Homo sapiens: one gene and its partner. The main gene of each other region encodes a partner of the protein of the gene in region 2 in a complex. Each region holds a gene or a part of one and is shown on either strand. Other genes may lie near its edges. The genes, in order: PDCD10 and STRIP2.

Region 1 (8,625 bases), on a different chromosome or scaffold from region 2:
CTCCCTTTCACTTATGATGATGATGGTGGTGGTGGTGATAGTGATAGTGGAAGCTAATGTAGATAAAATAGAAAAATGGTTTTTCTTGCTTTTTATATTTGTGAGATTTAATTACTTGAACTTTGTTTATGCTGCATACTTCAATTTTTCCCCCCTTTATGTTTGGTGAGTTTCAGTTTTACTAAAAGATAAGCTTATTTGGAATGTGTTGACTTTAAGCAAACAACAGTTTGAAAGTAATGAGGTTTTTGTTTTGTTGTTTTTTTAACTTTAGTACAGCATCTGTGTTTCAAGCACAGATTTAAGAGAATAATATAACCATCCTTTTTACTTTTCTTATTTTTTTTACTTGAAATTATTTAGACGTTGGTTTTACTTAAGTTTAGTAGCAGTTTTCCCACTAATTTAGAAAAATATGGACATATAATTTCCCAGAATTATTAAGGAAGAACACAAAGCAGGTATTTTAACTGATTCCATGATTTTAAGAAAGCCCTTATCATTATTTAGAGTTGAGCATTTGCAGCCCATTAGGCCATAATATATTGATGAATTGGTAGAGTTGTAATGCTTCCAAGTCTGCAATGAATCTAGTGAAGTCTCCTTTCCAAAATTGGTGTTCTGTGATCCCAGCCTGTGTGTTGGATTTGTGCTGGTGTTTTTGTTTTTAAGTGAGATTTCAAAAATGTGTAGAAGATTTTATTAGATTATTTGGGGTTTTAATATGATGAAGCAATGTATATTAAATATAGGGGTTTTAAATTTTTAATCTTTCCAGTTGGCAAGTAGATATTACCTTTGCACTAGTTATGACACTCATTATTTAATTTAAGGTTTCCTTGGGAAATGTAATGTCAGAGTACGGTTGAACTTAAGCCTCCCTTTTAAATCTGTTTTTTTTTTGTGTGTTTTTTTTTTTTAAGATTTCATGGGATGTCCTTTTGTCCCAAATTGAAAATATTTATTCTTTCTTTTTGTGATACTTTACTTGAAGGGAGCCCTGCTGTTGTTACTGGACTAAGTCAAACGCTAATGAATTCTGCTTTGCAACCTTGTCTTTCCTAATTATCTGGCCTTTCACCTCCCTCACCTGCCTTTGACCAACATTGGAAATTCTTAGATGTGATGAATTTGGCAGAGAGTCGCAGGATGTTTTTTATTATGTATTTATTTTATCAGAGTATATGATTGAACGACCAGAGCCAGAATTCCAAGACCTAAACGAAAAGGCACGAGCACTTAAACAAATTCTCAGTAAGATCCCAGATGAGATCAATGACAGAGTGAGGTTTCTGCAGACAATCAAGTAAGCAATTATTTGTTTTGTTTCTTCTTTTCTTAAAAGTACTTCCGAGGAACTACTCATCTACATTTTTTAATTTTGGTATGACTAACTTGAAATGCTTATTTGAAATAAAATCTCAAATTTTTAAATACCACATTTTATTAACTTTATGGCGTTTGGTTTCAGAGTACAGCATTTTTTAGAATGTTTAATTTTAAAACAACAATGAAATGTGCATAAACTGGAATGTAGTTTGAACTACATAAATGATGGGAAGATATAAATGTCAGATAAATGAATAGAGAAACTGGATATATCCTAGAGATTGGTAGTAAGATATACCAAAATAATTTTTATTTCAGAAATAGCAGCAGTCATTAAGGTAAGTAACGTACTCTTAGGCATGAGTAGTGTTTTCTAAGACTGACCAAATAGCCTCTAAATCCTTGCCTTTGGGGGATATAGGTTAAATAAGACCAAGAATACTCATGGGGCCAGAAGGCTGGCTGGTGAGCAGCAGCAAGAAGGGTCATCCTAGAGCAGTAGTTCTCAGACCAGGGACACTCTTCTGGAGTACAGTGAAGGGTGAGAGGGTAGGGGATTGAGTGAAAACATAATCCCTACATAAGTATCTTTAAACTAGAAAGTCTGATAATTTTCTTCAGCCTCAGTGGATAAAAAACAAAGAAAGCTGGGAATACTTGCAGTGTCACTATCAATGCATGGTTTTGGTGAAACCATAGGTAGATATTGCTGGGGAGAAAAGATTTAGCGCAGGTCTTTTTCTGGAAGAGGCTGTGACATATGTGGTAACTTTGAAGAACCTAAGGAGACTCACTTGGAATAAATAGTAACATTCATCTTTTGGAGTTTGGGCAGTGGGAGGAGTGGCAGCAGCCAGGCAGCCCAGCTTTGTGAAGGCCCTCAGCATGCCATGGCCCACATGCATCTGATATGCGCCTTCCCCACTTCCAGGATGCCCAAGAGGACGGTCAGCTCAGCTGATGGGACAGTGAGGGAAGATCCCAAAAGGAGATTGATGTGGTTGTCAGCTAAACCTGCTCTTTCAGTAGTGGAAATTGAAGCCCCAAAAGGTAGCAGGAAAAGATAAATCTTCAGGCAAAAAAGTGCAAACAAAAGAGAAAAGAGTAGGAAAGTGAAAACAAGCCAAAGTAGCTAAGAATAAAGATTTACCTGCAGAAAACAGAAAAACTAAAACTGAAGAGAGTCCAGCCTCTGAAGCAGGAGAGAAAGAAGCCCAGTCTGATTAATATCGCATACCATGTCTTATCAGTGGTTCCCCGTCTCTCTTCTTACATAATCCAGGAGAATATTTTTATCAACTATGTTGTAAATGCATGTTTTTTAGTAGCTCTAATGTTTTTTAATAGCTCTAGAAACATTTAAGGAGGGAATTCCACTGCATTCCATTTTTTAAGTGTAAATGCTTTTTTTTTTAAAGAGGTGAAATAATTTAATTTGCTGGTTATTTTTTGGTACAATGGGAAAATAATGTTGGATATTGAATTATGGGAAGCCTTGACTGTTATGGGTGTCAGCTTAACATTCCATAGATGGGTGGTTAGTTTTTATATCCCATAATATAAAGCATACTAAATGGCAAAGTGGAGTCGCAGTCCTGCATTTCATGTCTTGAACATTTTTAATTACTTCACTCTGTCACCCAGGCTGGACTGCAGTGGCATGATCATAACTTACTGCACCCTCAACCTCCTGGGCTCAAGCAGTCCTTCCACCTCAGCCTCCAGAGTAGCTAGGACTACTGGTGTACAACACCACACCAAGCTAATTTCTTTTTTTTTTTTTTAATTTTTAGTAGATAACCACATCTCCCTACATTGCCCAAGCTGGTCTCTAACCTCTGAGCTCAAGTGATCCTCCTGCCTTGGCCTCCCAAAGTGTTGGGATTACAGGAGTGAGCCACCACACCTGGCCTTAAATTACTTCTACTCTTCATGTTGTTTTTTAGTGGAATTGTTTCCTTGGGCAAACCACTCCTTGAGCCTGGCTCTACCTATCAGAATTGTGTGCACTCTGTAACATCTTTGGTCATGGTAGTCCTGTTTTTCTAATAACTTTGTTAATGTGCTGTGAAAGATTAAAGTATATAGTGTATATGCTATTAAATTGTGAATTGGTGGGACGTATGTGACAGCTTATCAACATTTGAAGGTACTGGTACTTGATAGCCTTTTAAGGTAATTTTGCCTCAGTTGTAAGCTGGAAAGTCACTGGAATAACTTTAGAGAATAATAATGATACGTGGCTTTTTAGATTTTGCAGTACATATGTTCAGAATTATGTACAAGTTGAAATGTCTGTGTACTGATCCTCAACACAACTGATGAAATCTCAATTATGAAAGAAAAAGAAAACATTCATCTTTTGAAAATAGTATTCTTTGTCATTCACATTGAGAAATGCTATTTTAGCTTGTTTGGATACCTAGCTAGTTTGGATACTCTCTTTTGAGTCACATAAAGAGAGGAATATGTCCCATAGAAAATAATGGTTCGTGATAGGTATGCAACCCAGCTATCAAGGAATGACCCTACTCTTTGACAATAATTAAGGGCCAGGAATATAAAAAAGGCTTTTAATTGAATAGCCAAAATCTGTGTCACAAGGGACAAACACTAAGGGTTTTTTTGTTTGTTTTGTTTGTTTGTTTTGTTTTTGAGACGGAGTCTTGCTCTGTCGCCCAGGCTGGAGTGCAGTGGCGCCATCTCGGCTCACTGCAAACTCTGCCTCCCGGGTTCATGCCACTCTCCTTCCTCAGCCTCCAGCGTAGCTGGGACTACAGGCGCCCGCCACCATGCCTGGCTAATTTTTTGTATTTTTAGTAGAGATGGGGTTTCACTGTGTTAGCCAGGATGGTCTCGATCTCTTGACCTTGTGATCCGCCTGCCTTGGCCTCCCAAAGTGCTGGGATTACAGGTGTGAGCCAACACGCCTGGCCTAAGGGTTTTGTATTTTACCTTTCCTATGGGAAAGCCCCAGCTTCCTTTTCTACTTTTAATATGTGAAGGAGGAAGATAATCAACTGTTCATGGAGTTTTATTTTTAATCTGGTACAAGTTGAGCATCCCTAATTTGAATATCAAATTCTAAATGCTCCAAAATCCAAAACTTTTTGAGCACCGTGACATGACACCATAAGTGGAAAATTCCACGTCTGACCTCATGTGATGGATGGGTTGTAGTCAAAACACAATCAAAACTTTGTTGTATGCACAAAATGTATGCATATATGGATGCACTTTATGAAACATAAATGAATTTCATGTTTATACTTGGGCCTCATCCCCAGGTCTAAAGACTTCTGGTCTCAAGCATTTTGTTTAAGGGATACTCGCCCTGTATAGTTAAAGTAAACATGTTTGGCCTGTAAAAGGATAAATTGTCAGTGATCCCAAACTTAGTTGTTTAGACTATTTATTTCTAAAGTTTTGAAATAATTTGGTAAGTTTTCATTTGCTTTGATAATCGTGTACTTGTTGATGAGCCATGACACATTTCTATGAAGATTTGACATTTAAAATAATATTTGCAGCAGATTTTGCTTCAGATCATCGAAGTAGGTTTATATAATCAATGTCATCTTAATAACAATCATTTATATAGGACTTATTATATGCTAAGCACTATTTTAATCACTTTACATTTATTTACTTATCACAACAACCCAGTAACAAGTGAGGAAATTGAAGCAGGCACAGAAAATTAGGTAAGGCCACAGAACTTACCTATTAAGTGGTAGAGCTGGATTTGAACCCAGGCAATCTAATGCCAGGTGTTCACTGCTGTTTCCCAATCACAGACTTCCAATGTTGATGTAATCTGGAGATTGAAAAATAGAGTTTCTGCCATTTGAAAGAAATGTGAAAAAGGATATTTTAACATAGAATGCCAGTACGTGAGAGAGATAACAGTATTGTGGTTGAAACTGGCATAGAAATGTAGGCCCAGAGCTCTCATCCTGTCACTTTGACATCCTCTTTCCCCCTACAGAGTCCCTGAGACATCTCTGCTAAACCGTCTGTGACTCTAGGGAGCTGCGGTTTGAAAACCACATTATTAGCAGCACATTTTAGTCATAAGGAAATTGAGCTTAAGAGTCTTGTCTATAGTCATTGACAGAGGCTTTCTTTAGGGTGTTGTTTTCTTTATGAGGGAGTAATAATACTTCAGTTCTGTTTTCTAGAGTGTACTAATTTAGCACAATTGAATTAAGAGTAATGGTGGCAATGAAAATTTACTTCCTAACCATTTGAGGAGGGATAATTTGCCCTGGCAAGTTTGTTGATATGTATGTTATTTCTGAGACTAAAATTCAACCACATATGAATAGCATAGATAGGCTAAAGTATAATTATTTGTATCACTGTCATATATTGGTACATTTTCATGTATGTTCTTACCATTATTAATTGACAAATTAGTGGATAAAATTGCACTAAAATAGAAAATGATTTCTTCTTCAGGCGTTTCTCCAATATTTTACTTTCTTATATCTAAGGTAGTTATCCCCTTTATTCATTTTAGCAACATTTTTCAATAAGCATATGTCATATACATATTACACCAAGTACTATAGGTGATGCTATAGATTGTATCAAAGTACAAGTAAAAAAGAATCCTGACAGCTAATAAATATTCAGGCAATTTTGAATATATTAGCAGACCTAGATTTGAATCTGTGTTCCAACATTTAGCTATGTAACCTTGGATATAAGTTGCTTAACTTCTGTCATTTTAGTTTGTGCCTCTGAAAATGAGGGTAATGACTTGTGAGAATTGAAAGAAATGATGTACATGAAGTGCCTAGCACAGAACCTAGCATACATTCAACAGTACATGCTATAATAACATTGTGAAATGAGGATTTTCCTCCCTTTTCTCAATGGAGTTGATAAGGAAAAATGATCCAGCAAATATTTCAAAAGGCCTTTTGATCAATGAATGTGTGTGCCTGAGTACATTTGAGCTATGCAAATATGTTATAAAATTAATTTGTATTTTTTTTGAAGTCCAATACATCTCAACTAATGGAAAACTAGTGGAGACTCGTGATTTAACAGACCAAAATAAAAAAGCCAGGCATTTATTTACTGTTTGTAATCTGCATTTGCATATTCTTAGGCTAAAATTCAGCAAGGTTTATTTGTTTTAAGTTAGGAGTTTTCATGAAGGGTTCAGAATAGATTTTTTCAGAGTTTTCCAGTCTAAACCAAACTCAACATAAAGCACAGGGATTCCCTTTCATTAGTGCATTTGCATAAATGCGTATCATGCAAATTTGGGTGGCATGATTAGAAACTCTACTTTTCTATTGCAGTTTTTTGATAAGATGTATGTTTACGTTTCATCTGAAGCCTTTGCCTTTCAGTGTAATGTTTCGCAAAGCTGCGCTATTAGGTTGGTGCAAATTGCTAAGTTCCTTCTCCTTCTACTCATACTATCTGCCTCTTATCACAGAATTCATCTGCACCAAGCCGCATTCATTAGTTATGCGATATTTATTTTACCCTCAAGTTTTTTCTCAGTTCTTTATCTGGTTAATTGTCTATAGTGGTTTTTTTGTCCTGGTATTTTCTCTCGTAGGAAACAAACTCTCTGGTAGTTACTAATATAATTTAGCTTCTCTATGTGCACACCTTGGTGCCATAAATGAAAATACTTTTCTGTGTACATATGGATAACATAATATTTGACATACATTGCTGCAGATTGTTTCTAGAGAACATTTTTTCTACAATTTGGTAGGCATTTAACAGTCTTTTGCCTCGTGTCCAAACAGAGGCTTAGGAATAAATGGCCTTGGTTGACAGAGAGCTCTGTTCCAATAAGGCATTAAACCTTAGCTCCAAGTTTTCAAACCTGACTCATCAGCAGTCACCTGAGGAGTTGCGCCTCCCCCCACCCCCTTTTAAAATAGAGATTTCCAGTATTTATCAGCAGGTCTTTCTTTTTTTGTCCAGCAAAACCCTCCCTTCTTCTCCCCTGTGTTTTTGTCTCCCTAGGTGCATGAGGCAACATGTTTCAGACCCACTCTTTTGACTTGTAGAATCTAGCCACTGTTATTGTATATGAAACATACGCTCATTTTGATGACTAGCCCCGGAAACACATTTTATTCCTCTTTAGCAGAATATTGAAATACACTACAAAGTAAGACTATATAAACTTCTGTCTGATCACTATGTAATTTGCTCCATTATATTCCATTTTAAATAACTCCATTGTGGATTTGGAGAAGCTTGCATATTTAGAGATTTGACATGTTTTATTTGTTGAAATTGTAATTTTTCTCACAGAATAGTCCTATGACAGCATTTTATTAAACAATAGTGGGTTTATGTCCATCACACCAATATACAAAGATTCAACTTAAGCCATAAATGAAAGGAATAGTTATCTAATTAAAAACTGCTGTTACTAAACCAGAGGCAAAAAAAAATTAGATAACATTTATGTAAGACTTACTGTCCTACTTGAATATGTAATGTTTCAATGTTTCAGCCCAATACCAGTGTTTGACCTGAGAGAGGTAATAAGTAAAATATTATTGAAATAATCAATGAAAATGGAATTACTACTTCAGAGTACTCTAAAATACTTTTTTAAAAAATATCAAAATTCTGTATGCTTTTAATTCTTAAAATTTCTACAAGCTTATTTACTGAAAAATATGCTGGGAAACACCCACATGCACACAGAAACCTGGACACTGAGGTTTTTTTCCCCTTGAAATAGGAATGTTGAAATGTTTTAGATAGGAAATAACTGAAATCTGGCATTTGTAATTAGTATTAGTAATAAAATGTTATGTTTAGGATGGTGCAGATTTCCATCTTATTCATTTCTTCACAGTTGCATTGCATTTGAAGTTTTTGTTGTGACTAACAGCTAAGAGAATGACTGTGAAAAAGAAGGTTTGTCGCAGAGAATGTGAGACTATTTGAGAATGCAGAATTACATCAAGTTCAATTTGGCGGAAAAAAATTGCTATGAGGTTAAAATGTGGAAATCAAAAGGGGCTAGTTAGAAAGGCAAAAAAAAGTTCAGAAAAAATGGTGCATGGATAGGAAGAACAGTCAACTCAAATGAGAATTATTCATTTCTTCTTTTTTTTCTTTAGAAAGGGGAGGGAGGTGATGATGCATATATAGTCAAAGGATGATTGCTGGGAAGGTTAAAGTGCAAGAATATTGTGATGTTGTCTCCTCTAGTAATTTAAATATTTTCCAAAGGGAATAGTGACTGATAGTAAGTGTTTGAAAGAGGAGGATATTTGGCTGCTAGATAGAAGCTAAAAG
Region 2 (16,544 bases):
AATCTGGAGAACAGGCATGGGAATGGATATTAAGGGTATGGGATGATGGAGGAAGGAACACAGAGTTGGATCAGGCTCAATTTATTGATTTAGGCCCACTAAGTAGGGGCTCTGCGTTCAATGTTGCAGCTTGGGGAGTTAAAAAAGGTTCTAATAGTTTATTTGGTCAGCTGAATTATGGATTAAAAGATGGCCCACTCTGAGTGAGCTGGAAATGCCTGCTCTCCCTTGGTTTAATGTAGAGGAAGGGATCCAAAGGCTTAGGGAGATTGGGATGGTGGAGTGGATTAGTCACTTTAGATCTACTCATCCCAGCTGGGAGGGTCCAGCAGATACACCCTTGACCAATGCATTATAAAATAGATTTATGAAGGCAGCAACTGCATCTTTGAAGAGTCCTGTAATTGCTTTTCTCCTTATGCCAGAGCTAATGGTGGGAACCACAGTCACTCAACTACAAAATTTAAATACAATGGGAATAATTGGATCCCGAGGTGGCAGGGGCCAAGTGGAAGCACTCGACCATCAAAGGCAAGGTGAGCATAGCTACCATAATGGATGGCAGAGGCAAAGGAGCAATCAGAATAGTCTGACTCATGTAGAGCTGTGGCATTGGCTAATTAATCACAGTGTTTCTAGAAGTGAAACTGATAGGAAGCCTACTATATTCCTACTTTATACAAGCAGAAAACTTGTAGGTCGAATGGACGAAAGACTAATTTGAATTATAAAAACAGAGAATCATGGCCTCTCAATTTCCAGACTTGAGCCAGTTAATAGACCTGGAACCCCCTGAATGAAGGGGAGGCCGGGTTCCCTTGAGGAAGGACCCCACTACATTACCAACAATTTATGCAGTGAATTTTTCTCCCATCCTTCCCCAAGAAGACCTCTGGCCTTTTACTAGGGTAACTGTGCACTGGGGAAAGGGAAATGATCAGACATTTCGGGGACTACTGGACACTGGCTCTGAGCTGATATTGATTCCAGGGCACCCAAAATGTCATTGTGGTCCTCCAGTTAAAGTAGGGGCTTATGGAGGTCAGGTAACTAATGAAGTTTTAGCTCAGGCCTGACTTACAGTGGGCCCCCAGACTCATCCTGTGGTCACTTCCCCAGTGCCAGAATGCATAATTGGCATAGACATACTTAGTAGCTGGCAGAACCCCCACAGTGGCTCCCTGACTGGTAGGGTGAGCGTTACTATGGTGGGAAAGGACAAATGGAAGCCATTAGAGCTGCCTCTACCTAGAAAAATAGTAAGTCAAAAACAATATCACATCCCTGGAGGGATTGTGGAGATCAGTGCCATCATCAAGGACTTGAAAGACAAAGGAGTGGTGATTCCCACCACAACCCTGTTCAACTCTCGCATTTGACCTGTGCAGAAGACAGATGAATCTTGGAGAATGTCAGTGGATTATCGTAAGCTTAACCAAGTGGTGACTCCAATTGCAGCTGCTGTACTAGATGTGGTTTCATTGCTCGAGCAAATTAACACATCTTCTGGTACCTGGTACGTGGTCATTGACTTGGCAAGTGCCTTTTTCTCCATTCCTGTCCATAAGGCCCGCCAGAAGCAATTTGCCTGCAGCTGGCTGGGACAGCAATATACCTTTACTGTCCTACCCCAGAGGTATATCTATTCTCTGGCTTTGAGTCATAATCTTATTCGGAGAGACCTTGATCGCTTTTTGCTTCCACAAGATATCACATTGGTCCATTACATTGATGACATTATGCTGATTGGATCCAGTGAGCAAGAAGTAGCAAATGCAGTGGACTTATTGGTGAGACATTTGTGTGCCAGAGGACGGGAAATAAATCTGATTAAAATTCAGGGAACTTCTACCTCAGTAAAATTCCAAGGATCCAGTGCTGTGGGACCTGTTGAGATATTCCTTCTTAGGTGAAGGATAAGTTGCTTCATTTGGCCCCTCCTACAACCAAGAAGCACAATGCCTAGTGGGTCTATTTGGATTTTGGAGGCAACACATTCCTCATTTGGGTGTGTTATTCCTGCCCATTTATCTGGACCCCACCCAGTTTTTAGTGGGGTCCAGAACAAGAGAAGGCTCTGCAACAGGCCCAGGCTGTTGTGCAAGCTGCTCTGCCACTTGGGCCATATGACCCAGCAGATCCAATGGTGCTTGAGGTGTCAGCGGCAGATGGGGATGCTGTTTGGTGCCTTTGGCAGGCTCCCAGAGATGAATCACAGTGGAGGCCTTTAGGATTTTGGAGCAAGGCCCTGCCATCTTCTGCAGATAACTACTTTACTTTTGAGAGACAGCTCTTGGCCTGTTACTGGTCTTTGGTGGAAACTGAACGTTTGACTATGGGTCATCAAGTCACCATGCGACCTCAACTGCCTATCATGAACTGAGTGCTTTCTGACCCATCAAGCCATAAAGTGGGTCGTGCACAGCAGCATTCCATCATCAAATGGAAGTGGTATATACGTGATCGGGCTCAAGCAGGTCCTGAAGGCACAAGTAAGTTACATGAGGAAGTGGCTCAAATGCCCATGGTCTCCAGTCCTGCCACCCTGGCTTCTTTCCCCCAGCCTGCACTGATGGCCTCATGGGGAGCTCCCTATAAGTTGACAGAGGAAGAGAAGACCAGGGCCTGGTTTACAGATGGTTCTGCACGATATGCAGGCACCACCTGAAAGTGGATGGCTGCAGCACTACAGCCCCTTTCTAGGACATCCCTGAAGGACAGCAGTGAAGGGAAATCTTCCCAGTGGGCAGAACTTTGAGCAGTGCACCTGGCTGTGTACTTTGCATGGAAGGATAAATGGTAAGATGTGCGATTAAATACTGATTCATGGGCTATAGCCAATGATTTGGCTGGATGGTCAGGGACTTGGAAGAAGCATGATTGGAAAATTGGTGACAAAAAAATTGGGGAAAGAAGTATGTGGATGGACCTCTCTGAGTGGTCAAAAACTATGAAGATATTTGTACTCCATGTGAGTGTTCACCAGTGGGTGACCAAAGCAGAGAAGGAGTTTAATAATCAAGTGGATAGGATGACCCGTTCTGTGGACACCAATCAGCCTCTTTCCCCAGCACCTCTGTCATTGTCCAATGGGCCCATGAGCAAAGTGGCCACTGTGGCAGGGACGGAAGTTACGCATGGGCTCAGTAACATGGACTTCCACTCACCAAGGTTGACCTGGCTACGGCCACTGCTGAGTGCCCAATTTGCTAGCAGCAGAGACCAACACTGAGCCCTGGATAAGGCACCATTCCTCAGGGTGATCAGCCAGCTACCTGGTGGCAGGTTGATTGTATTGGACCTCTTCTGTCATGGAAAGGGCAGAGGTTTGTCCTCACTAGAATAGACACTTACTCCAGATAAGGGTTTGCCTATCCTGCAAGCAATGCTTCTGCCAAGACTACCATCCATGGACTCATGGAATGCCTCATCCACCGTCATGGTATTCCACAAAGCATTGCCTCTGACCAAGGCACTCATTTCATGGCTAAAGAAGTGTGGCAGTGGGCTCATGCTCATGGTCTTACCATGTTCCCCATCATCCTGAAGCAGCTGGATTGATAGAACGGTGAAATGGCCTTTTGAAGTCACAATTACAATGCCAACTAGGTGACAATACTTTGCAGGGCTGGGGCAAAGTTCTCCAGAAGGCCGTGTATGCTCTGAATCAGCATCCAACATATGGTACTGTTTTTCCCATAGTCAGGATTCACCGGTCCAGGAATCAAGGGGTGGAAGTGGCACCACTCACCATCACCCCTAGTGATCTAGTAGCAAAATTTTTGCTTCCTGTTCCCGTGACATTACGTTCTGCTGGCCTAGAGGTTTTAGCTCCAGAGGGAGGAAACTGCCACCAGGAGACACAACAATGATTCCATTAAACTGGAAGTTAAGATTGCCACCTGGACACTTTGGGGTCCTCCTACCTTTAAGTCAACAGGCTAAGAAGGGAGTTACAGTGTTGGCTGGGGTGACTGACCCAGACTATCAAGATGAAATCAGTCTACTACTCCACAACGGAGGTAAGGAAGAGTATGCATGGAATACAGGAGATCCATTAGGGCGTCTCTTAGTATTACTATGCCCTGTGATTAAGGTCGATGGGAAACTACAACACCCCAATCCAGGCAGGACTACAAATGACCCAGACCCCTCAGGAATGAAGGTTTGGATTACTCCACCAGGAAAAAAACCACGACCTGCCAAGCTGCTTGCTGAATGCAAAGGGAATACAGAATGGGTAGTAGAAGAAGGTAGTCATCAATACCAGCTACGACCACGTGACCAGCTGGTCATGAGTATTTCCTTCTTCTTTTGTTAAAAACATGTTTGTGCGTGTATACACTTGTATTAATATCTTCATTTTATTTTCTTTCTCCTTTATCATGTGACATAAGATTTATTGACTTCATATCAGCATTTAAGTATTGTTAACTTTATATAATAGTATTTGGGTTGGGGATTGGTGAGTTTCCAGTTGTACAAAGGATATTTATGTTATCCTTTGTACAATTATGTTAGGCATAACTATGCCCTTATTATTGTCTTTAATTGAAGATTATGTATGATCTCAGGAGATGTGTATGAGTTCGAGCTGACAAGGGGTGGACTTGCGATGGTTAATACTGTGAGTCAACTTGATTGGATTGAAGGATACAAAGTATTGATCCTGGGTATATCTGTGAGGATGTTGCCAGAAGAGATTAACATTTGAGTCAGCCGGCTGGGGAAGGCAGATCCACCCTTAATCTGGTGGGCACAATCTAATTAGCTGCCAGCAAATATAAAACAGGCAGAAAAACATGAAAAGGAGAGATGGGCCTAGCCTTTCAGCCTACATCTTTCTCCTGTGCTGGATAGTTCCTGCCCTCGAATATCGGACTCCAAGTTCTTCAGTTTTGGGACTCAGACTGGCTCTCCTTGCTCCTCAGCTTGCAGACAGCCTATTATGGGACCTTGTGATTGTGTAAGTTAATACTTAATAAACTCCCCTTTATATATATCTATCTATTTATCATATTAGTTCTATCCCTCTAAGAGAACCCTAACTAATACAGAGGGGATGAAGGATCGCACTTTGTTTTAGTCTTTTACTAGATCAGGCTGGTATATCATAAAAGGAAAAAGCAGGTCTCTATGAGTAAAGATCTGGAATTACCTTGAGTCTTGAAATCTTCTTCAAAGCACCTCCTGTTATTGGTGAATTCCAGGTTCTCAGTGTAACTATACAATTCTGTGGCAGGAAAGACAGAACAGTCACATTCGGGAGATCCTTAAAGAAGAGGCCCAAAGTAGAGAGGGTGGCATGAAAGAGCTGAAGCTTCCAACACATTCCTGTGTCCAATGAATCCAAAGCTAGCTTCCTCCTTTTCAGAGCAACGTTAAAAATAGCCACTTGTGTCCCTGGGAGATTAAACCATCAAACCTGTCCTCTTCCTGCCAGCTGGCTGCTGCAGCAGAGAAGGCAGCCTTCAACATTTGGTGAGGGCCAAGAGGAGGACTGCAGCACAGAGAGCTTAATCTCATCACTCCTGTTTCTCAGGGCTGCAACTCCTGCTTTGTCAACCCAACCAGGAACTATCCCATCTCTAAGAGAAGAGGAGGGCAACACAACTCCTGAAACTTAGAGGAAAGATCCTTGTGCTGGATCAGGAAACCATGGCAAGGGCTGAAAAGTAAGTGCTAGATGGTTCTTCAGGGTTGGAACCAGTTCATTCTCTCCCTGCTAAGTTTCCTCAAAGGGTATAGAAGTTTAGATTCCTGCCCACAGCCACAAAGCAGAGGCTGCAAAAAAAACTCTAGAGAACAGCTATGGTTGTCAAAGGGCTGCTGTGCCCAGGAAAATCTAACTTTGCTAACAGCAGCCTCTCAATACAAAATGCAAAAAGCTTATGAGAAATAAAAATGCCAGCCACGTGTGATGGCTCAGACCTATAGGATTGTAATCCCAGCACTTTGAGAGGCTGAGGCAGGAGAATTGCTTGAGGCCAGGAGTTTGAGTCTAGCCTGGGCAACATAGCATGACCCTATCTCTACAAAAAATTTAAACATTAGCCAGGTGTAGTGGCACATGACTGTAGTCCTAGCTACTTAGGAGGCTGAGGTGGAGGATCGTTTGAGCTTAGGAGTTTGAGGCTTTAGTGAGCTATGATCATGTCACTGCACTCCAGCCTGGGGTAACAGAATAAGACTCTGTCTCTTAAAAAAAAAAAAAAGAAAGAAAGAAGAAAAGAAATAAAAATGCCCTTTCCTACTCTCTCTATCTCTCTCCAGAACATTGTATATGTACCCTCATCTTACAGAAGATGAAGAACTGAAATACAGAAGTCAACAGATGATAGAACAGATTTCCTTTAAATCTCTGCTCCCTACCTGAGACCCTTCCTGGAAATTTAACCAGGTCACAGGTAATTCACAAAGCAAGAGAAATTCACTTATGTTCCAGCCAGCTGTCTAATGGTTGAGAAACACCTTGTCTGGGAGTCAGGGCTTTTGAGTCTTAAGTTCCAGAATCTAGGAGTGACCAGAAGCAAATCCCATCACTGAATCTTAAATTCTTCAGTCATTAGTGGAGAGGTGAATATATATATTTTTAAGATTAAAGCACCAAAAACCAAATCAGAAAAGTGGGCAAGGCTCTTAGGTACTGAACTTTAGTCTTGGTCTTTTTATTTTTAAATTTTAGATTATGAATTTTTATATACAGGTAAGAACAGAATAGTACATTTAAGACACCTGTGTATTATCTTCTACCCAGGTCAAACAAATGTTAGCATTTGTTATATTTGCTTCAGACTGCTCCCCAGTCTATCTTATTCCCTTCTCCAGAGGCAACTGCTATAATGAAATTGGTGTGTATCCTTCACAAGCCTATTTTTCTACTTTTGCTATATGCACATATGCCTGTAAACATATGATATTGCTCTGTTTAAAAACTTTTTTATCCAAGCAGTATCCTATTGTATAAATTCCTTTGTTACTGATCCTTTGTCCCAATTTTATCTTTAGCATTTATTATTATTATTATTATTTGAGATGGAGTCTCACTTTGTCACCCAGGCTGGAGTGCAGTGGCGTGATCTTGGCTCACTGCAACCTCTGCCTCCCAGGTTCAGGCAATTCTCCTGTCTCAGCCTCCCCAGTAGCTGGGACTACAGGTGCATGCCACGATGCCCAGCTAATTTTTGTATTTTTACTAGAGACAAGGTTTCACCATATTGGTCAGGCTGGTCTCGAACTCCTGACAGGTGATCTACCCACTTCGGCCTCCCAAAGTGCTGGGATTACAAGATGTGAGCTACCGTACCTGGCCAAGCATTTATTGATACTGAAACATGTTGAGGCCAGGTGTGGTGGCTCACACCTGTAGTCCCAGCACTTTGGAGGGCCAAGGCAGGAGGATCACTTGAGCCCAGGAGTTCAGGACCAGCCTTGGCAACATGGTGAGACTCTGTTTCTACAAAAGATAAACAAAATTAGCTGGACATGGTGGCACAAAATTAGCTGGACATGGTGGCACAAAATTAGCTGGGCATGGTAGGGCATGCCTATGACCATAGGCATAGCTACTTGAGAGGCTGGGGTGGGAGGATCACTTGAGCCCAGGAGCTCAAGGCTGTAGTGAGCTGAGAGTGTGCCACTCAAGCGTAAGCAACAGAGCCAGACTCTGTCTCAAAAATAAAAAAATAAAAAATAAATATATTGATTTAGATCAATTATTATTTTAATGGCTATTCAATAGCCTACTGCACTAATATGCTATAGTTTATCCATTTCCCTACTGATGAGCATTGTAGGTTGTTTCCAACTTTTTACACTGATAAACAAGGCTGCAATAAACATCTTTGTACATTTTCTTGTGCCCAAGTGTAATTTTCTTTAGAGTGGATATCTAGGAGTAGACTTGTTGGGTCACAATATGTGCACATCTTCAACTTTGCAAGATATAAGCAAAATGCTTTTCAATTTTATACTCTGCTCCCCCCATGTCTAGCAGTGCATAAAAGTACTAATTTCTCTGCACCCTCACCAACCCCAGGCTTTTAAGTTTTGCACTCTGATGATTGTGAAATAATATTTTATTATTTTAATTTGCTTTTCCCCATATACTAATAAAGTTCAATATCTTCTCATATATTTATTGACCATTTGGCTTTTTCTTCTATAAATTCCCATTTATATTCTTTGCCCATTTCTTTGTTGGGTTGCTCATCTCTCTCCTCTCTTTAAAATATATATATATTTATATCATATTCCTATTATGAATTCTAATCCTTTGTTGGTTATTAAACTTAGCTCTCTATTTCTCTGTCACTCATCACAAAATTTATTCTCTGTGCTCATGCACAAGAACGTCTTTAAAATTGTTTGTCTCTTTTCTCTGAAAAAGCATGCCTCAAAGTATCACTTCCATGTGACAGAATATTTAAATTTCACACATCTCCACCCAAAGCTTGTTTATTAATAACTGGCATTCATAGCACATGTAACATGGAGGCCCTTAATGTGAGGAGATCACATTTACCCTAAGCTAAAAATCCAGACAGAGACAAGCAGGCCAGCACTGAAAGAAGAATGGAATTACTTAACCCCAGCTCATAAACATCCAAGCAGAACTCTACTATGATGGATGCAGGTGACATGTCCAGCCTTGCTCAGCTGGCCAGTTGACTATAGTTTTTCCTCGGACTTTGCTGAGATTTTAATAAGGGGCAGTTGCGAGAGGAAGAAGGAAAAGATGGAGGTAGAGGAGACAAAGGAAAAAGAGATGGCATGGGATAGAAAGAGGGCAGCAGAAAGAAGTAGGCAGGCAAAGATATGGGTGACAGGAAGAGAAAAAGAGAAGGAATATGGAGAAGATGGAGAGAAAACTGATTTGAGAGTGCACCAAATCAGTTATTTTCAAAGAGAATAAAGAAGAGTGAGCAGGAAAGAGTGATAGAATGACAGAATGAAGAATACCATAGCCAAGGAGAATCACAGAAGGAAATGTGAAGACAAACAAAGAGATATTTACCACTTGGATGGAGAGGAAAAGGAATGTGGAGAACAGCCTTTGTTCAACAGCCACTTGGTGAGAACAGACAAGCTTCCAGGGAGATCACAGGCCCCTTCCCTCTCCTCCTGGCCATTCTTCCACTAGCTACTGACCCATCTACCTCATACCTGACAACTCGGCTGCATGCCCATCTGCATCTCCATACTCAAACTCCAGAGTGGGACAGTCCACAGAGCCCTGTAACAGAGAAATTTTGTTGGTAACTGGGATAACTTGGAAAAAGGGGTTGCCAAGGGAAGACTGTACCCTTATTTATCTTCTTCCCCTCATGGAGGCCAAGGTTAGATCAGGGAGACAGTTAGGAGAGTCCTATTTGGGTCTTTCATCTCAGAGGTACCCTACGCCAAGCCAAAACTTGAGTCTCAGTGTGGGGAGGGGCTGAGGATTCCTATACAAAATCGGAAAGTCTGAATAAAGGGCCAGGATCTCAAACATATATGAAAGCTATGGTCTGTGTCCATATCTAATCTACATGAACACAGACCAGAGGAGCATCTAGCTGATTTATATAAAATTGAGACAGACAGAAACAAAGAGAACTGGATTCTAGCTTCAGTTCTGTCATCAACCCACTGTATGATATAGATCAAGTCTCATGCTGTGGATCATAGTTCCTTATTTTTAAAGAGGTTCTTTAGCTCTAATATTCTGCAACTTTAGGATTGTCAAATGATGCAACATCTCCACTCCAAGTTGTAGTAAAGATTACATTTCCCATGACGTTGTATGTATAAATTTATAATCCTAGTAAATATGTTTTAATATAATCCCATCTTCTAACTTAAACATTTTGGGATATTTCCTTCCTGTATATGTTCATACATATGAATTTTTAAAATTTTCAATCTCAGCTCTGTCACATACTATTTGATCTTGGACAAGTTAACCTCTCTGTGCCTCAGCGTGACATAAAAAATATACTGTTCTTTGCCCCTGGTTCCTGGTACAGAGCTCCTGAAACTCTTAGAAGTTCCTGAGTGATAGGAGTGTCAGTTATTCATAATGAGTCACTGTCAGCTTTACCAGAATTTATGCTCATGAGGTGACTTATGTTAGGAAAGACGGAGCACATGATTAGAGGGTTTAACTTTCAGCACCACCCCCACATCCAGGGAGGGGAGGGGTACTACAGATTAAGTTCAGTCATGTGGCCAATAGTTTAATTATGTCTAGGTAATGAAACACCATAGGAAAACCCAGAAACAACTAGGTTCAGGCAGCTTTTGGGTTGGGGAACAAACAGATGTGCTAGGAGAGTGCTGCCCAGGGAAGATAAGGAAACTCTGCATCACCCCAAACCCATACTTCGTCCTTCGCATCTCTTCCATTTAGCTGTTTCTGAGTCATATCCTTTATAATAAAATTATAATTCTAAGTACATGCTTTCCTGAATCCTGTGAGTTATTCTAGCAAATTATGGAACCTGAAAGGAAGATCATGATAACCGCTTAATTTGTAGTTGGCCAGGCTGAAGTGTAGATAGCTTGGGGATCCCACCTATGGCTGGTGTCTAACGTAGGGCCTTGTAGGACTGAGCCCTTAACTTGGGGGTCTGTGCTAATTCTAGGTAGTTAGTGTCAGAATCGAATTGAACTGTAGGACATCCAGTTGGTGTCAGCGAATTGTTGGAAAATGACCTGCTCAGTTTTCCCATCTGTAAAATGAGGATAATAACAGGACTTACTTCATAGGGTTATTTTAAGGACTAAATGAGTTAATATAGGAAAGGCACACGGCCTAGCACTTCGTAGCACTATGTGAGTGGTCACTCTATGATTTTAATATTATACTATAAAGGCATTCTTCTCACATTATTATGACTATTAGTTTAAATGGTTGTATAAATGGATGTACATTTATTTGTTTACTTAACTAGTTCCTTATTGAATATTTAAATGGTTTTTAATTTTCCTTTATTATATGCAACAAACTGTAATAGACTTACACTTTTTTCTATATTTAGGATATTTCCTAAGCATAGATTTTTATAAAGAAAATTAATGAATCAAATCTTATGAACATTTTAAAGTCTCTTTGTATATAAGTTGCTCCCCCAAAACATTATGCCAATTTATACTGTCAACAAAGCAAATTGGCCGGGCGCAGTGGCTCACGCCTGTAATCCCAACACTTTGGGAGGCCGAGGTGGGCGGATTACGAGGTCAGGAGATCGAGACCATCCTGGCTAACACGGTGAAACCCCGTCTCCACTAAAAATACAAAAAATTAGCCGAGCATGGTGGCGGACGCCTGTAGTCCCAGCTACTCGGGAGGCTGAGGCAGGAGAATGGCGTGAACCCGGGAGGCAGAGCTTGCAGTGAGCCGAGTTTGCGCCACTGCACTCCAGCCTGGGTGACAGAGTGAGACTCTGTCAAAAAAAAAAAAAACAAAAAAAAACAAGGCGAATCATGTTTTAATCCACTATAGCAAAGATTTCCAAACTTTTGGATTAAAAGGAACAGTAGGGAAAAAGAAAAAGGTGGAGAGTGGCAAATGACATAGGGTTGTTGCTGTTTTATTCTGATAGGTAAGGACTTTAAAAACTTTAAAAAATTCAAAAAATGAAAGACAGAATCTCAGAATAAAGAACAGCCATTAAAAATTGTTTTTCAAACTTTTTGGAAAAATGATACCTTTTACATTACGTCCCAGCACACACACACACACACACAAACTGGAACAAAAGTTTAACAAAATATTTACCTTTACTGCATGTGATGCAGTGATATTTTCTATTATTCTCTTTCTTTTCTTTTTTTTTTTAAGACAGGGTCTTCCTCTCACCCAGGCTGGAGTGCAGTGGCATGATCACAGCTCACTGCGGCCTCAACCTCCTAGACTTAAGTGATTCAGCCTCCTGAGCAGCTGGGACAACAGGCGCGCACCATCATGCCTGGCTAAATCTTTTTTATTTTTTATTTATTTGTAGAGATGGGGTCTGCCTACATTTCCCAGGCTTGTCTCGAATTCCTGGCTGAAGCTACCCACCTGCCTCAGTCTCCCAAAGTGCTGGGATAATAGGCATGAGCCATCATGCTGGCTTTATTTCTTAAAATAAAAATTTTAGCCTCAATTAACAGGTTGCCCCCTATAGCAGTTTGAAAAACACTGTTTTAAATTGTATACATTCTTAAATTTAATATATTGAACTAAATTTTTAGAAAAACTCACTTCGATGACCTGAATTTTCCTCATTTTACCACAGACCAGTTAAAACTTTGTCAAGGAGTTTGAGATCAATAAACCAGATCTGGCTAAAAGAGGTCTGAGGTGAATCCTTTTATTAGGTTAAGACTCTTCTTATTAAGCAAACAATTATTCTTTAGCTTCCTTTTTAGGTTGGGATGTTCACACACTAAGCCAGTGGGAGAAGGTAGGTCAACAGTGCTTCCATAAACAGTGATACACGATGAGGCTCTCTTGACTTGTGCCACAGTAATTCTCTTCTAGTGATTTTCTAAAAGCCCTAGAGAGGAAAAAAATCCCATCTCCTCTAAGGACTGCCTTCCACAGGAAAGCAAAAAGAGGGAGAGAAGAAAAGCAGATCTGGCACCTGGGTACTGTGGTAATAGGGGATGTACTGGCAGGTAAAAGGAGTCCTGCTGCAGCAGAAGGTAGAGGAAAGCTAATCTTTCCAGCCAGGCTTTTGGCAGGCAATGAGCCCAGATAGAGATGATCGCAGCAGTTGTTCATTTCCAGGCATGAAGAGTGCAGCTGCAGACAATCAGCAGGTAAACCGCGGTGCAGGTGGAAAGCTTTCGAGTCTCTGGACACTGCAAAGTACTGGCAAAAGCAAAGGACTGTACTCTCAGAGCCTTTGCCTGAAGAAGACTTGACAGGTGGGGAACAGATTGCAACTTTAGAAGGGAGACCCAGGCAGAGACTTTTATTCCCCCCATAGAACATATCATTCTGAAATTATTTTATTTATTTACTCACAATTTGTCTCCCCATGGGCGAAGACCCTATCTTGTTCACTGATATATCCCTGGCACCTAAAACAGTGGCTGGCAGAAAGTCCTCGATAAATAATTGTTGAATTAATGAATGGCTCATCTCCCCAAAAAAACATTTGAACGAGAACAATGTCTCTGTGGGGGAAGGAGGTACAGGGTGCCCTAAAAGACCAGACTCATCTTGAAGTAGGGAGGGAGATGATGTGGCGGGTATCATCTAGCAAGACAGGAGGGCTGAGCTCTCTGCCTCTGCAAGGTGGTGACTTTGGGCCAGTCTTTTCATCTCCATTTCTACCTTGAAAAAAAATGAATGGATTCCTCCTACTCTACCTACATCAAAATGTAAAGCATACATGAAATCACTTTGGAAACTGAAATGCTATTCAAATGGTAAGGCAAGGTCTGGGATGCCAAAAACCTGGTTTCTAGTACCAGCTCTGCCACTTGATGATGATGATGATGATGATGATAGCAATATACTAAGAGTTACTATGTACTGACTAATTACATGCATTGTGCCTGCACTGTGCCAAACATTTTATAGTCAATTATCTCATTTTGACTTTATCACAACCTTCTGAGGTAGGCAGTGTTAATCTCATCTTACAGATGAAGAAACTGGAGCTCAGAGAGGTTCCGTAATGTGCCGAAAATCACACAGGTAGTAAATGATAGGGCTAGGAGTCAAAACCTGGTCTGACTACTCCAAAGTCTGGTGTTCTTGACCACCAACTATGCCAGATGTCTGATCTTGGGCAAGTCACTCCTCTTTTTTTTAGGTCTGTAAAATGAAAGGGTTATACCAGATGATATCTGCAGACCCTGCCACATCTGATATTTTGTCGTCTATTCTGATCCCCGCTCAGATCCAACTGATGGGAACTGCCTCAATGAGGGGATAGGGAAGTGATAATAATTCAACGCTTTCATCTTCATAGATAGGGTTTCTTTTTTCAGGAGAGGAGGAAGAGATCGAAATATTCACACTCCTATCTGTATCCTGCGACTGCTCCCTCCAGATAGCCACTCCAGGACTGCCCCTGCCTGAATCCCGTCTCGCTCAGCCCTCACAGGCAGGGGCCTGATGTCCGCGGAAGGCGCTCCCGAAACGGCCTAAGACTTACGGGGGGAAGGGGACGGGCAGGGAACGGGCAGAAGTCCCTCGGCTGGCCCAGGGGCCCGCCGCAGGCAGCCTGGGAGGGGGACTGCGGTTGCCCCACTCGCCAATCCTGCTTTCCTGCGGCTGAGCTCCAGCCTCCCACCCCTCAAGCCAGTCACTTAACCTCTCCGCTCCTGTTCCCCCGTCTATAAACTGGGATCGGAATTTCTGCTTCAGGGGGCTGCAGCGATTAAGTGAGATAAATATTTGGAAAGTATCTGGTCCGCTCAATACCGCGCTCATCTTCGCGCAGCGGGGGAAAGCCAGAGGGCTAGAAAGCCCCCAACCCGCGGCAGGAGACGGGCGGACACTGGTCCGGGCCAAAGAGCCCAGAGTTCAGCCGCTAGGACCCCGCAGGCGCCCACTGCGCGGGGCTGATCGAGCGCGCCGAGGGCTCCGGGGCCGAGGCCGAATCACCTCAGCCGCCGCTTCCCGCCGGCGGGCGTCTCCGGGCCCCAGCCGAAGCTTTCCGGGCTCCTCACCTCTGACTCCCGCCGCTGGCTTCGGAACGCTTCGCGGCCCTTGGGCGCCGCCTGCTTCCCTTTGCCGCCGCCGTTGCCATTGCCATTTGCGGGCGGGCCCCCGGTCCCAGGCGCGGCGGGGTCCTCCATGCTGCTGGTCAGCGGCTCCCCTCAGGGTTCAGCTCGCTTTGCCGGAGGCGACCCTACCGCCGCGCGCCGGGAGCCAGGCCCCGCCCCCTCCACCTCTATTGGTTACGGCAGCTCGCCGCAACCCCGCCCCGCGAGGCGATTGGCTGCTCGACCGGCCGGAGCGGGACTCGAGGAGGTGGGGGCTCAATGAAGAGATTTTTGAGGGGATCTTTTTAGTCCTGCGGCATTGCTGGCGGACGGAGACTCCTAGGTTAGCTACAGGCTCCACACCTCGCGAAAGCTGGGCCTTGAGATCAGGCGGGTTATCTCTGTGCTCCTCACTCGGTGTCTCTCAGCTCTCACCCCCGTCCCTGTAGCGACCTTTTCCGGAGCTCTAGTCTCCGCCTACTGCTCCACAGCAGTCTCCGTTTCCCTGTTACCACCGACCCGGCCCCCCATATCCCGGCTCCTGCACACGTCCCATATCCCGCTTAGTCTCAGGGGAGGGATGGCACCGCCAGGTGGCCAGGGACATCGCCCGAAACGAGGGACTCGCTGTCTCTGGAAGCTGAGAATTCTCAGCGTTTTTCTGAAGAGAACGCATCTCGCCCGGAGCTAGGGCTTGGCTGGGAGACTGGAGGTCTAAGGGTGGGATGGGGGAGTTTTTCCATCACTGAAATTGGTGGTGCCCTCGAGGGCTGCTCCTGTCATCTGCCCTTCTCTGCTGTAGGGGGCCTCTTCCTCATGGTGTGTAAATGTTGAGGGTAGAGCAAGCCCCCACCCTCACCTGCTCGCCAGTCCTTTCTTTCCTTCCTCTCTCTTAGATGCTTCCTAAGGGCTCATTGTTACTGGGGGCAAAAGAGGCTGTTTGATCTGCCCTCTCCTGAATTTAAAAAGTAGCTTGTAGTAAATATTTAGACAGTCTGGCTTGGTAATAGAAGCCCCAAAGACGTAGGCTCAGGGGAACAGGTGGGACCAAATCGCTGTCCCCAGCCTGGTTGCTTTAGGAAGGGTCTGGGGGATTGTTGAACTGAGCTTGGTGCCAGGCACTGCAGTAAGCGCTTTCCAAATATCACATCATACCTCTCCCCGACAGGGTGTTTTTACGAATCCAATGTTACTGATGAAGAAACCGGCACTTGCAGATTCCTCCCTGCGGTTTCCAAGGTATCATATTCTATCTTGTCTCAGGGTCTTGCCTATGCTGTTCTCTGGAGGAGACTGTCTTCTGTTCTCCTGGTTGATTCCTTTTCTCTCATAAAGATTCTAGTTAGTTGTCACCTCCTCCTCCTCCACAAAGCTTTCCTTTTAGCCCTCAACTCATTCAGGTTGTGTTGGTGTCAAACCAGTTCTGCCTAGATCCAAAATCCTAACATTTTCCACGATATACCCAAAGCAAAGGGCCTAGAGGAATTACTCCACCTTCCCATACCTTAGGGACAACCCTGTCCCTTTCTTAACATCTCTCTCTCTCTCTCACTTTTCCCTTTGCCAGTTCATAGGCGACAGAACAAGGCAAGTTTGAGAGCACTCTTTGGAGCTTTTTGGGTTTTCTCACCCTGGTCCAATATCTCCTTACTGTACCTTCACATCTTCCTTTTCCTCTTCCAGTCCCACTCCTCTCCCCACCCACATATAGGCTCCTAGCGAGTAAGACCAAATTTAGCTCATTTTTGTATGCCCCTAATTTATGTACGTTTAACGCAGCGTTTCACAGTCTCTGTACTATTGACAATTGGGGCTGAATATTTATTGTAGGGGGCTGTCCTGTGCATCGTAGG

What was found.
Region 1: STRIP2 (region 2) and PDCD10 share a complex: the UniProt entries of both Homo sapiens proteins name them as parts of the core of STRIPAK complex.

The regions. Positions count from the first base shown.
Region 1 is NC_000003.12:167,688,277-167,696,901, reverse strand, and holds part of PDCD10 (programmed cell death protein 10), read left to right. Parts: intron 1-1,179; coding exon 1,180-1,306; intron 1,307-8,625. UniProt on the Homo sapiens protein: Promotes cell proliferation. Modulates apoptotic pathways. Increases mitogen-activated protein kinase activity and STK26 activity. Important for cell migration, and for normal structure and assembly of the Golgi complex.
Region 2 is NC_000007.14:129,432,713-129,449,256, reverse strand, and holds the start of STRIP2 (striatin-interacting protein 2), read right to left. Parts: upstream 14,826-16,544; 5' UTR 14,785-14,825; coding exon 14,656-14,784; intron 9,236-14,655; coding exon 9,166-9,235; intron 5,234-9,165; coding exon 5,159-5,233; intron 1-5,158. UniProt on the Homo sapiens protein: Plays a role in the regulation of cell morphology and cytoskeletal organization. Required in the control of cell shape. Calmodulin-binding scaffolding protein which is the center of the striatin-interacting phosphatase and kinase (STRIPAK) complexes.